Linked DNA regions of Homo sapiens. The protein of the gene in region 2 interacts with the protein of the main gene of each other region in a biochemical or structural test. Each region holds a gene or a part of one and is shown on either strand. Other genes may lie near its edges. The genes, in order: CENPV, CYLD and KLHL21.

Region 1 (3,747 bases), on a different chromosome or scaffold from region 2:
CTCAAAGGAACATGTTCAAGAAAAGAAGTAATTCTCAGGTTATGCAATTGCTAGGTTATTCTTGTCGGTTTTTTCCCCCTAGTGTTTTGATTGTTCTTTTTAATTCGTAAAATTGACACTGAAATATAATATCAGGGCGTTAAAATATCTCTCTGTAGCACAACTGTTCCCCGAGGCAGGAATCCAGATCGCATTTGGAGAAAAGAAGGCAGCCCTTTAACAGCCCAGTTAAAAGCTCTTTCCCAAATCGCGGACACTCGAGATGCTCCTCGGGCCATCTAAAAGACTGCGGAGCAGCCAGGAGGGCGAGCGGCAGGGAGCATTAGCTGGCTGAGCACATAAAAGCCTCCCTACGTAGGTATCCCCGCCGCCGCGCGAGGCCGGAGCATCTCTTCGCGCGCGCTTCTCTCCCGGATCAATAACCTCCGCCCCCTGCTCCCTCCCTGGCAGTGCCTGGAACAATGACGGGATTTTGCTTCCCAGTGAGTTCAAAACTATTCATGCTTCCTTCAACGCTTCTACCTTTCCCTTCCACCCACCCTCAAAAACACGTGTGCAAACACAAAAAAAAAGGGGATTCGGGTAAGAGAAAGCCGTGGGATTTATGTTCTTTTCACTAAGAAAGGCCCCCACACCCTTTGCGCGCCAGCAAGAGACAACGTCCCCGAGCACGATGCTTATGGCCGGGAAAGACTCTTTGTGTCCCAAGACGGCTGCGCGCGCCCTCAAGCTCCGGACGAAGCCCCCTTTCCATTCCCAGGCCACACAGCCCTAGAAGCACCGCCCCGCCCCGCCGCCCTTAGAATTAAGGAATAACCCCAGTGCTAACGGGGGAGCCGCGTCGGCTCCGTAACGTGGAAGGCTCAGAGCTGAAAGGCGCCCAAGGCCTGCACGCGGGCTGCGAGCCCGACTCCTGCCGAGGGGGTCCGCGTGGCAACGGCTCCCGCGCCCCCCGGCCCGCCGCACTCACAAGGTGTCTAGCAGGAGCTTGGCGGCACCCTCGGAGGTAAGCTTCTGCCGCTTCTGGAACGTCTCCCAGCGCTCCCGCTGCTCGCCCAGGTCCAGGTTGGACGCCGAGGACGTCGGGGTCGCGGGAGTCGGCGGCGGCGGCGGCGGTGGCGGGAGCAACGCCAGCTCAGGCGGCGGCGGCTCCCCCGGGCCCTCCTCCTGGGCCCGCGGCGACGAGCGCCTCAGCCGCGGCTTCTCCGACGGCGGCTTCTCCACCGCCTGGCTCTTGCTCCCGGCCTGGCTAGCGGAGCGCCGTGTGCGGGTGGCGCTGGGTGCCAAGGCAGCGGCCGCGGAGGCCGCGGGGGCCGCGGAGGCCCCGGACCGCTTCTGCCCGCGCAGCTTGGCGGCCGCAGAGCTCCTCGATCGCCGCATGGCTCCCGCAGCCTGGCGCGCAGGCCTCGCAGCGCGGCGCGCCCCCGCCGGCCTGCGCGCGCCCCCGCCGCCCGCCAGTCTTCAGGCCCAGGGGGCGCTGCGCCCGGCTGCCCCGCTCCGCCAGCCGCGCCCCGCAGCGCGGCGCCTGCCCGCAGGAGGGAGACCCGGCCCGCCCGGCCGCTGGGACGCACCTGCCTGTTCAGTCCCGCAGGCAGAGGGGCTGCGCCTGGGCCTACGCTCGCGATACCCAGAATCCACTCGCACCTGCGAAGGCGCCCCTGCCCTGTGTGAATCCAGCGGGCTCTTCGTACCTTCCCGACCTGGAGGGGCCTGGGTTGGGCCTGAATTCGCAGGCTCATCCGAGCGGGCAGCCTGGGGTAACTTCGTCTCCAAAAACGAGCTAATTTGTGTAAACGGCCTGCCACCTGCTACCTCCTGTGTAACAGCGGCCGAAACCATAGTTCTTCACCTTCGTCTTTTCTGTCACATTATAGAACAGTGTCATGAGGATACCAATAGTCAACAGATTTGGGGTTTCATTTTAATTAAATGAATGACCCGCGCGTCGAATTTCATTAGTATGATTTTGATGAAGGCAGCACCAAAGTTTAAAGACAAAAGGCACGAGAATCGTTGATGGAACCCAGATAGTCTTCTTCTCCTTCTCCTTCTTCTTCTTTTTTCAGACCGAGTTTCGCTCTTGTTGCCCAGGCTGGAGTGCAGTGACGCGATCTCGCCTCACCGCAACCTCCGCCTCCCAGGTTCAAGCGATTCTCCTGCCTCAGCCTCCTGAGTAGCTGGGATTACAGGCATTCGCCACCACACCCGGCTAATTTTGTATTTTTAGTAGAGACGGGGTTTCACCATGTTGGTCAGGCTGGTGCCGAATACTCCCGACCTCAGGTGATCCATCCGCCTCGGCCTCCCAAAGCGCTGGGATTACAGGCCTGAGCCACCGGGCCCAGCCTATCTTTCTTTTTTTTTTTTTTTTTTTTTTCTTTTTTGGAGTCTCACTCTGTCGCCAGGCTGGAGTGCAGTGGCGCGATCTCGGTTCACGCAACCTCCGCCTCACCGTTCCAGCGATTCTCCTGCGTCAGCCTATCTTTCTTCTTTATTCTGATTTTCTTCATGGTATTGTTAGTTTAATAGTTTATTGAATTAAAGGCATAGTTTAACTATTTTGTCTTTTTTTTTTTTTTTCCATACAGGATCTGACAGACTGGAGTGCAGTAGCGGGATCTCGGCTCAGTGTAGCCAAGAACTCCTGGCCTCAAGCGATCCTGCCGCCTGGGCCTCTGGAGTAGCTGAGTAGCTGGAACAACAGGCGGCGCCCCCCCCCCCCCCCCCCCGCCCCAGCGAATTGTTGCTATTGTTGTTTTGTAGATACCGGGTTTCCCTATGTTGCCCAGGCTGGTCTCTAACTCCTGGCCTCAAGCGATCCTCCCGCCTAGTTCTCCCCAAGTGTTGGGATTACAGGCGTGAGCCACCGAGCCCCACCTTGCCATTTTGTCGTTGTTGTTGTTGGAATTATGGTTTACACACAGCAACGTGCAAATATCTTAGATGTACAGCTTATGTGACCACCACCACTTCAGATACAGAACATTTTCAGCACACCAGAGTTTCCCTCAGGCAAAAGAAAACAGAGGCGATCACTGTTCTTTTACCACCATAGGTTGGTTTTGCTTATTCTTGAACATCATTTTAAAACGGCACGTAGGCCGGGCGCAGTGGCTCATGCCTAATCCCAACACTATTGGGAGGCCGAGGTGCTCAGATCGCTTGAGCCCAGGAGTTTGAGACCAGGAGGTGGAAGCTGCGGTGAGCTGTGATTACACCACCATATTCTACTCTGGGTGACAGAGTGAGACCTTGTCTCAAAAAAAAAAAAAAAAAAAAAAAGCTGGGTGTGGGGAGTGGTTATCCTTGAGGAGAACTAACTGGGAAAGAGAACAAAGGACTCTTCTAAGATGCTGGATATGGCCAGGCACAGTGGCTCATGCCTGTAATCCCAGCACTTTGGGAGGCGGAGGTGGGCAGGAGTTTGAAACCAGCCTGGCCAACATGGGGAAACCCTGTCTCTACTAGAAATACAAAAACTAGCTGGGCATGCTGGCAGGCACCTGTAATCCCAGCTACTCGGGAGGCTGAGACAGGAGAATCGCTTGAATTCAGGAGGTGGCGGTTGTAGTGAGCCGGAGGTTGCACCATTGCACTCCAACCTGGGCAACAGAGTAAGACTCCGTCTCAAAGAAAAAAAAAGATACTGGATATGTTCTCTACATTATCTTGATCTGGGTGGTAGTTATGGAGGTGTGTAAAACACATAAAAACACTTCAGTGTGTGTAAGACTTAGCTCAATTTAA
Region 2 (3,747 bases):
ATATTTTAAAAATCAATTTTGTAGCATCAAAACTTGTACTACATAGCAAGGGAATATCATGATATAACTGCATTATAATTTCTTTCTATTATTTCTTTTTCAAATTTTCATTTATTTTTATTTTATTTATTTATTTTTAAGACAGGGTCTCGCTCTGTCACCCAGGCTTGGGTACATTGGTGCGATCATAGCTCACTGCAGTTTCAAACTCCTGGACTCAAATGATCCTCCCACCTTGGCCTTCCAAGGTTCTAGGATTACAGGCATGAGCAACTGCACCTGGTCCTCATTTAAAATTTTTACAAGAATAATAATCTTTCCAATGAAGTAGGCTCATTCTCAAACCTATTTTAACTGATGGTTAAAAAACTACACAATTTCATTAATTTAAACTGAGACTTTACTTCATTATTTTAATTAATTTTCTGCTGAAAACAATACTTCCTAGGTATCCCTGTCATAAGAATGTGGCTATCTGGTTTCCAAAGACAGTACTTTCATTTCATCCTTCCTTGAGATAGAGGTATCCATTTCCATTATTCTGGGTAATGGCTGCAATTGATAGCACTATCATATTTATTTTATTCTAGCAATTAAAAAATAAATACTCCTAAAGAACCAAATTTTAGATTTAATCACTTAATGATCAAACAACCTGGCAAATCTATACACAGTGGAACACTTCTTTTAGAAAGCACTGCTAGATAATGAAGTATTCCATAATGGTAACGTTCCTAAAAGTCTCTCCCTCTACAAGCCAGCATGAGACATGTGGTTTAGCCAAGACAGGATACAGGTTAGGCACCTCCTTCAAACCAACATGACTGAAATATCTGTGTAACACTCAGTGAGGGTAAAAGCAGAGGTAGCATGAAGTGGTTCTCTTTTCTTCTTTTTTGTGGTGTGTTTGTTTTAATTCCACTTGAGGGCACTGTCTACTTCAGCAAGAATGGGATCAATTTATATTTGCCACTTATATAAGACACCTGTGGAAACCTCTATCTTGACACAATATAAACAAAACTCCTTATAAGGGCTGCCCAAACAGCTATCCAACCCCTCAATTTGGTTGGATTCCTTTAAAGGACCAAACTGAAGTGTTGGTTCTTTTTGACCAAAATGCTTTTAACATGTCAACACTTTCCACAAGAAAATGTCCTTATTTTTTTCTTGATCATTGATGTATCATTATGACTGTAAATTATTTTGCATAACTCTTGATCTGCAAGGCTGTTATTTTGTTAAAAGGCTGTATCTTATGCTTCCTGAGGTCGCGAATGCTTTCTACAGATCTACTGTCTAGAGTTTTCCCTTGCAATCAGCCATTTTCTGTGGTTTCCTGCTGTATGCATTTGACTCCTTTTACGGCCTTGTTGCTTTCCAACTTATCGCTTCGAATCAGTTCTGAGAAGCCAGGTAGTGAAATATGTTTGTGTGTTTGAAAACACAAAGCAACAATCGTGAAAAGAGGAATGCATACATTCTGAAAGGGTCTTTAGGAGCAAAGGGCACATAGGCTTTATTGAATAGAGAGTCTGGTCACTAGCAGAAGGTTAAGACAGTCAAAAAGCAACTTTCAAAAAAACGAGCTGTTGTTTTGGTTCTCTTTAAAATGTATTTAGATTTTTAGGGCCAAAATTTTTTTGAAAAAGGTAAAGTAATTCTATTTTGAAAAGAAATTCTTTTTTAAAATTCCTAAGAACAATGTCTTCAAATATTACAATCAGAAACTTCCCTGAATCTTAATAATTGCTTTATACCAACAGCTCCTACTCTATTGGTCCTGTAGCTTAACTATTCATGTCACAATTTAAAATAAAAATCATTAATGCTAATAATCTATTATTAAGACAAAACTAAATTACTATATGTGCATTAGGACATTATGTTAAATAAATTTGATTATAAGCTTGCTTTCTGAAATAATTTAAGGAAGAGAATCCACAGTAAAAATTGATATAACTGCTAGGTTTATAAAAATGTTTTAGGGTAATAAACTATAGCTTTCAAGTACCATATTTTAAAGTGAACTCTACAAGGAGTGGTAACTTTTTTCCTAACTTTCATTAGCACAAGTGGAAATGAGCTTAGACTTAGCAATAGGATGGGTCATGTTAGACAACTAAAATAGTCAAGCACAAGTTATCAAATATTTCAAAAGCATTATCCAAAAATAAAGGATACAGCCTTTCCTCTTTCAGAAAGAATATATTAAGAACAAGTTTGAAACTCTCTTATTAAAAATTGATTCTCTTCACTGCAACTGATAGAGAAAGTTGAATGGGAAACTTTACGGCTCGAGTCTAGAGATATACAAGGCAATCAACTGAATGATCACTAATATTCTCGGCCAGGCACAGTGACTCACGCCTGTAATCCCAACACTTTGGGAAGCCAAGGTGAGTGGACAGCTTGAGCCCAGGAGTTTGAGACCAGCCTGTGCAACACAGTGAAACCTCATTTCTACAAAAAGTACAAAAGTTAGCCAGGTGTGATGGCATGTGCCTGTAGTCCCAGCTACTTGTGAGGCTGAGGTGGGAGGATGGCTTGAGCCCTGGAGGGAGGGACTGCAGCAAGCCATGATCACGCCACCGCACTTCAGCCTGGGTGAAAAAGCAAGACCCTGTCACACACTCTCTCACATATATACACACTCCATTATATATATATATTTATTTTATGTACTCAAAATACCAGTATTGCAATAAAAATATGCTAACATACATTTCTCCCCACTGTAGAAGTGAATATAACACCAACAGTCTACTTTCACTGGGATGTGCATAGTAGTTAAATAGTTAAAGTCTTAGGTACCCCAAGCAGTAAAAACTGACTCAACACAATATGAAGGGAAAGATCTAAATCACATTGTAAATGAGTTATTTATCATCAAGAAGGTTGGTTTGTTAGTTTGGTATTTTTTACGCTTTCAGTACAGAGTTAGATACTGAAAACTACATCATCTAGGCTAGGCACAGTGGCTCACTCCTGTAATCCCAGCACTTTGGAGGCTGAAGTGGGAGGATCCCCTAAGCCCTGGAGTTCAAGGCTTTAGTGAGCTGTGATAGCACTACCGCACTCCTGCCTGGGTGACAGAATGAGAGCCTGTCCCAAAAGGAAGAAAAAAAAAGAAAAGAAAATTAGCCGGGTGTGGTGGTGTCTGCCTGTGGGCCCAGCTACTCAGGGTCCCAGCTACTCTGGAGGATGGGAAGATCGCTAGAGCCCAGGAGGTCCAGGCTGAAGAGAGCTATGATCACACCACTGTACTCCAGCCTGGGTGACAGAGCAAGACCTGGTCTCAAAAAAAAAAAAAAAAAAAAAAACAAAGAGGAAAGAGAGAACACACACAAAAAAAAACCCAACATCAATCCACATTCACTCAGCTTCTGCCTTTAAGTAAAGGCCTAGGGAACAGTAAGACAACTGAAGGAAAAAGAAGCACAGCTAAATTCAAAGTCACCGTAGGGCAGGTGGGGGTGAGGGGTCAGTGTGAAGGGAGAAATTTTCACTTGTATTCTCTTATTATTTTGCAGGTTGAATCACTTTGAGTGAGTATATCACAAATGACTCATCTAAATACTATCTTACTTCAGGCTGGATAACTGTGTGATTATGAATATCTTGGTAATAAATACTGAATGAAAATTACCAACGAGTTGAAACACAATAATATGTTTAACCCTAAAGCCATGTTGAACAGAAGGCCTTTCCTTTAAGGACGCTGATGAAGGAGAACAGTTCAGGTTC
Region 3 (3,747 bases), on a different chromosome or scaffold from region 2:
CAGTCCCCACCTCCTTGCCTGATAACCGCCTCACACGCCTGCCTGGTGGGTTCTTTCCTTATATAGCAGTCACAGAGACCGCCCTTCCTCACCCCGACAAAGGAGGTAGCCTCGTGTTTGAACTGGGATTTATCTTTAATAAAAACCGTAGAAGCCCAAACTCAGGCGGACTGGGACCCGCCTACCATGACTCGGCAGTGTTTTGGGGTTTGGGCCAAGTAACTGGAAGAAAACCTCTTAACATGTGACCATGTTTACAGGCTCCGGGGAGTTCAGCCTAAACACCATGTGACCAGAGCACAGAGCCTAGGTGCAAGCCCAAGGGAACCTTGTCACCGGGTGACAAAGAGTGAGTCAGGGGGCCCGGTGTGGCTCAGCAGGGAGGGAGAAATTCCCCGGCTTGTGGGGAACAGATGCCTCACCGGGCGTCGGCCTCCTGCCCGTCCCTGGATTCCTTAAGGAGAAAAAGAAAGCACCCATTGTGCGGGGTGAATGCCCCAGTATCTTCCAACCAAGTGGGGAGGCACCTCCTGGGCACGGAGTTGGCTCAGCCTGGCAGCCCCGGCCGCACGGGGCACAGAGACCCACAAGCAGCTACTTGTCCCGGCTCACACAAGGGGCCCTTCTTCAAGGTTAAAAGTATCGCCCAGAGACATGTAGTCACCAGAGCCCCAGCTTGGACTCAGGTGCGCCCCTAGGATTCCAGGCTCTGTGCGCTTCCCCCGCGAATAGCTGGGCTCCCGTACCGGCGAGGTTCAACCCCAGAGAGCCTGCCCAGCCCCTGGCCCACTCACCCGTCACGTAGATGTCATTGCCCAGCGCCACGATGCTGTAGCCTCCGCCCAGGTGGTCTGGGAACTCGGCCAGGTAGCGCCACTGACCCGTCTGCGGGTTGTAGCAGTCGACAGTGACCAGCTCGTCACAGTCCTGGTCGCAGCCGCCCACGAGCACGAGGATCTCGGCGAGACCGGTGGACGGGCGAGGACGCATTCGGGGACAGGGCCCGCGGTCGTGGCGGTCGTAGCGCGCCGCCTGGAAGTCGCGCGCCTCGCGCAGCAGGCGCAGGCAGGGTGGGCAGCGCGCCACCAGCGGCTCGGCCTCGACGTGCGCCAACAGGTAGAAGCGGCGCACGAAGGGCAGGCGCACGGCCTCCAGCAGCTGCGGCCAGTGCGCGGCGCGGCGCGGCGGGTCAGCGCGGACCCAGCGCAGCGCCAGCTGGTAGGCGGCCTCCTCCTTGGGCACACACAGCCCGTCGTCCCGCAGGTAGCGCAGCAGGCGCGCCAGTGGCAGCCGCTCCAGCTGCTCGGCGCCCAGCTCGCCCACGTGGCGCAGAATGAACCGCTGCGCCGCGCTCGCCAGTCCCGAGCAGCTGAAGGCCTCAGCGAAGTCCTGCATGTCCAGGCAGTTGGCCAGGTCGAGCTGCTGCTGCAGGAAGGCCCCGCACGCCTCCTTCACGGCCGGGAACTGCAGCAGGTCGGCGGCGCGCAGCAGCGGCTCAGCGTTGTCGCCGCTTACCGCCACGCGGCCCGTGTAGCTGAAGTCCAGCAGCAGCTGCAGCATGTCGGGAGGCACTCCGTGCAGGCGCACCCGCTCGGCGCGGCTCTCGCGCAGCTGCCCCGCGAACATGGCGCGGAAGTAGGGGCTGGCGGCGGCCAGCACCGCACGGTGCGCCGGGAAGTCGCGCCCGCCCGCCGCCTCCAGGGTCACGTCCAGGAACTTGCGCTCGGCGCGCAGCTGGCTCAGGCCGCGCAGCAGGCTCAGGGCGTGCGCGGGGTCCGAGAAGGGAAGCACGGCCAGGGGCGCCGGTCGCTCCATGGCGCCTTCGATAGGTTGTCGAGGACGCCGCGGCCGGGGCCTGCGGAGAGACGCGGCGCGCTAGGCACCGCTGCTATAAATAGGGCGGGGCGCCGCGGCTCTCGAGGGGCGGGATGGGCGGGGAGACGTCTGCACCGCCCCCTTAACCCCTCTGTGCCGGGCGCCACCGCCCCCCGCGAGCGCGGGCTCGCCTGTCCCCCGCGCGGCGCCCGCCCCCGGCTCCGCAGGCTGAGTCACCGCTGTCCGCGGCCGGCTCCCTCCCTCCGCCCTTCTGCGTCTCCCCGCTGACGCCCGGGCCGGGGACAGCGAGTGACAAGTGCCAGGTCCGAGGGCGGCCTCGCCGCGCGCCGGGACCGGGGGCCTCCCGGGGTTGCCCACGACCCACCCGGCCCGGCTGCTGAACCCAACCCGGGAGAGGCGAGCTCGGCCCTGAAACCAAAGCCACCCCTCCTTTCACGCCAGACTTCCCAAGGGCGCCGGCCCAGGTCCCGGGGCGGCTGGGTACAATGGCTTTTTGTTTTGCTTTTGAGTTCCACTAGTTTCAAGGGTTGCTAGTTAACCCCATCACGGGACACACTCAAAGGATAGGCTTTTTACCATTCTGGACCAAAGCAAGAACGCGTATAAAGTTTTTCGGTGACGTTTTTTTCTTGGCGCATTTATAAGCGACCCGGGGCCGGATTCCAGGAGTCGGCCCCACTCCTGTGTTCCTGAAGGAGCTTCTGACTCAATCACACAGGCGTTAACTTTAGTCGGCTTCACGCGCAGTTGTAGTTTCCGAGTCTGCGTCGCAGCTGCAGGCTCCGGGGCTGCCCGCCCTAGGGGCTCCCGGGCCTCCCTGAAGCAGCTGCTCGGACTCCACGAGAGGGTAACTGGGTATAAAGAGCGAGGGCTCAAAGTCAGATAGGAGACCGCCTTGAAACTAGATGACGCCACTAAGCACAGTCCCGCCGTCACTTGTACTGCGGTGGGGAATGGTGAAAGAAGGAATCGCCCTTATTTTAGTTCCGATAGACACAGCACCACTTTGAATGTCACTTGTAGGGGAAAAAGAGCCCTCCCTTGGAGGCCATTTTTTCCTCAGTGGAAGGTAGGCTTTGCTCAGTTTTAGAAAAGACCCCTATTTCACCACCAGGACTGCTGCTTTGCAGAGAACACTTGGGTTTGTGCTGTTTTCCAGCCCCCCTACACCGGTGGGCCTTTGAGAACGCATTCCTGAGGAAGGCGCCCGCCCACGTGGGTCCCAGAGCAGGCCACGCGCATGGGAGCTGGCTATCATTTCCTGGTTCCAGCGAGGTCTAGGGCCGCGTAGCGTTTCCAGAAGACATTTTGTTTTTATTCCACCTCTGAAATGAGAACCGCAGGCTTTCTCTTCTACTTAAGAGTTTCACGTCATTTTGCCATAAGAATGCATCTGGTCTGAATTTCAGGGTGAGCATGGGCAGCACAGGCCCAAATCAGAAAACATTCAGGTACCCAGGCGGGCCGCCTGTTGCCCATAGAAGGACTGTTCACACAGCTATTCAAGGCAGCGGCAGCATTCCTGGGCCCAGGAGCAGGGCCAATAGCTTCCTTGCACAGGCTTTGTGACAAGAAAGGCTGAGTAGCCAGGAAGTGGAATGTTTGTAGGGAAAAGAACTCCCGTCCCCTGGGTCAGCTTACCCATCTTGCGTAAGTCCAGTGATTAAATCAATAATGTTTCCATAGTTGAGGATTGAGTACGGTTTTTCTGTATTCCCAATAACAGGGATTTTTAAACATCATATTTCAGTCTTACTATGTAGCCTTGAAGAATAATGATGTATTTATTGAAATGGAAAGATGTTTGAGCTATAAAGCGAAAAATCAGATTACTCATTGTATGACCCAAATTGATTTATATGTATTCATATGCCTAAAAAAATTTATTAAGTTAACATTTTCGGCCAGGCG

The links.
Region 1: of the proteins of CYLD (region 2) and CENPV, one has a biochemical effect on the other in vitro, tested with the Homo sapiens proteins (one study listed by BioGRID).
Region 3: the proteins of CYLD (region 2) and KLHL21 form a complex in vitro, tested with the Homo sapiens proteins (one study listed by BioGRID).

What each region holds. Positions count from the first base shown.
Region 1 is NC_000017.11:16,352,057-16,355,803, forward strand, and holds the start of CENPV (centromere protein V), read right to left. Parts: upstream 1,414-3,747; 5' UTR 1,381-1,413; coding exon 971-1,380; intron 1-970. UniProt on the Homo sapiens protein: Required for distribution of pericentromeric heterochromatin in interphase nuclei and for centromere formation and organization, chromosome alignment and cytokinesis.
Region 2 is NC_000016.10:50,744,939-50,748,685, reverse strand, and holds part of CYLD (ubiquitin carboxyl-terminal hydrolase CYLD), read right to left. Parts: intron 1-3,747. UniProt on the Homo sapiens protein: Deubiquitinase that specifically cleaves 'Lys-63'- and linear 'Met-1'-linked polyubiquitin chains and is involved in NF-kappa-B activation and TNF-alpha-induced necroptosis.
Region 3 is NC_000001.11:6,601,003-6,604,749, forward strand, and holds the start of KLHL21 (kelch-like protein 21), read right to left. Parts: upstream 1,868-3,747; 5' UTR 1,816-1,867; coding exon 795-1,815; intron 1-794. UniProt on the Homo sapiens protein: Substrate-specific adapter of a BCR (BTB-CUL3-RBX1) E3 ubiquitin-protein ligase complex required for efficient chromosome alignment and cytokinesis.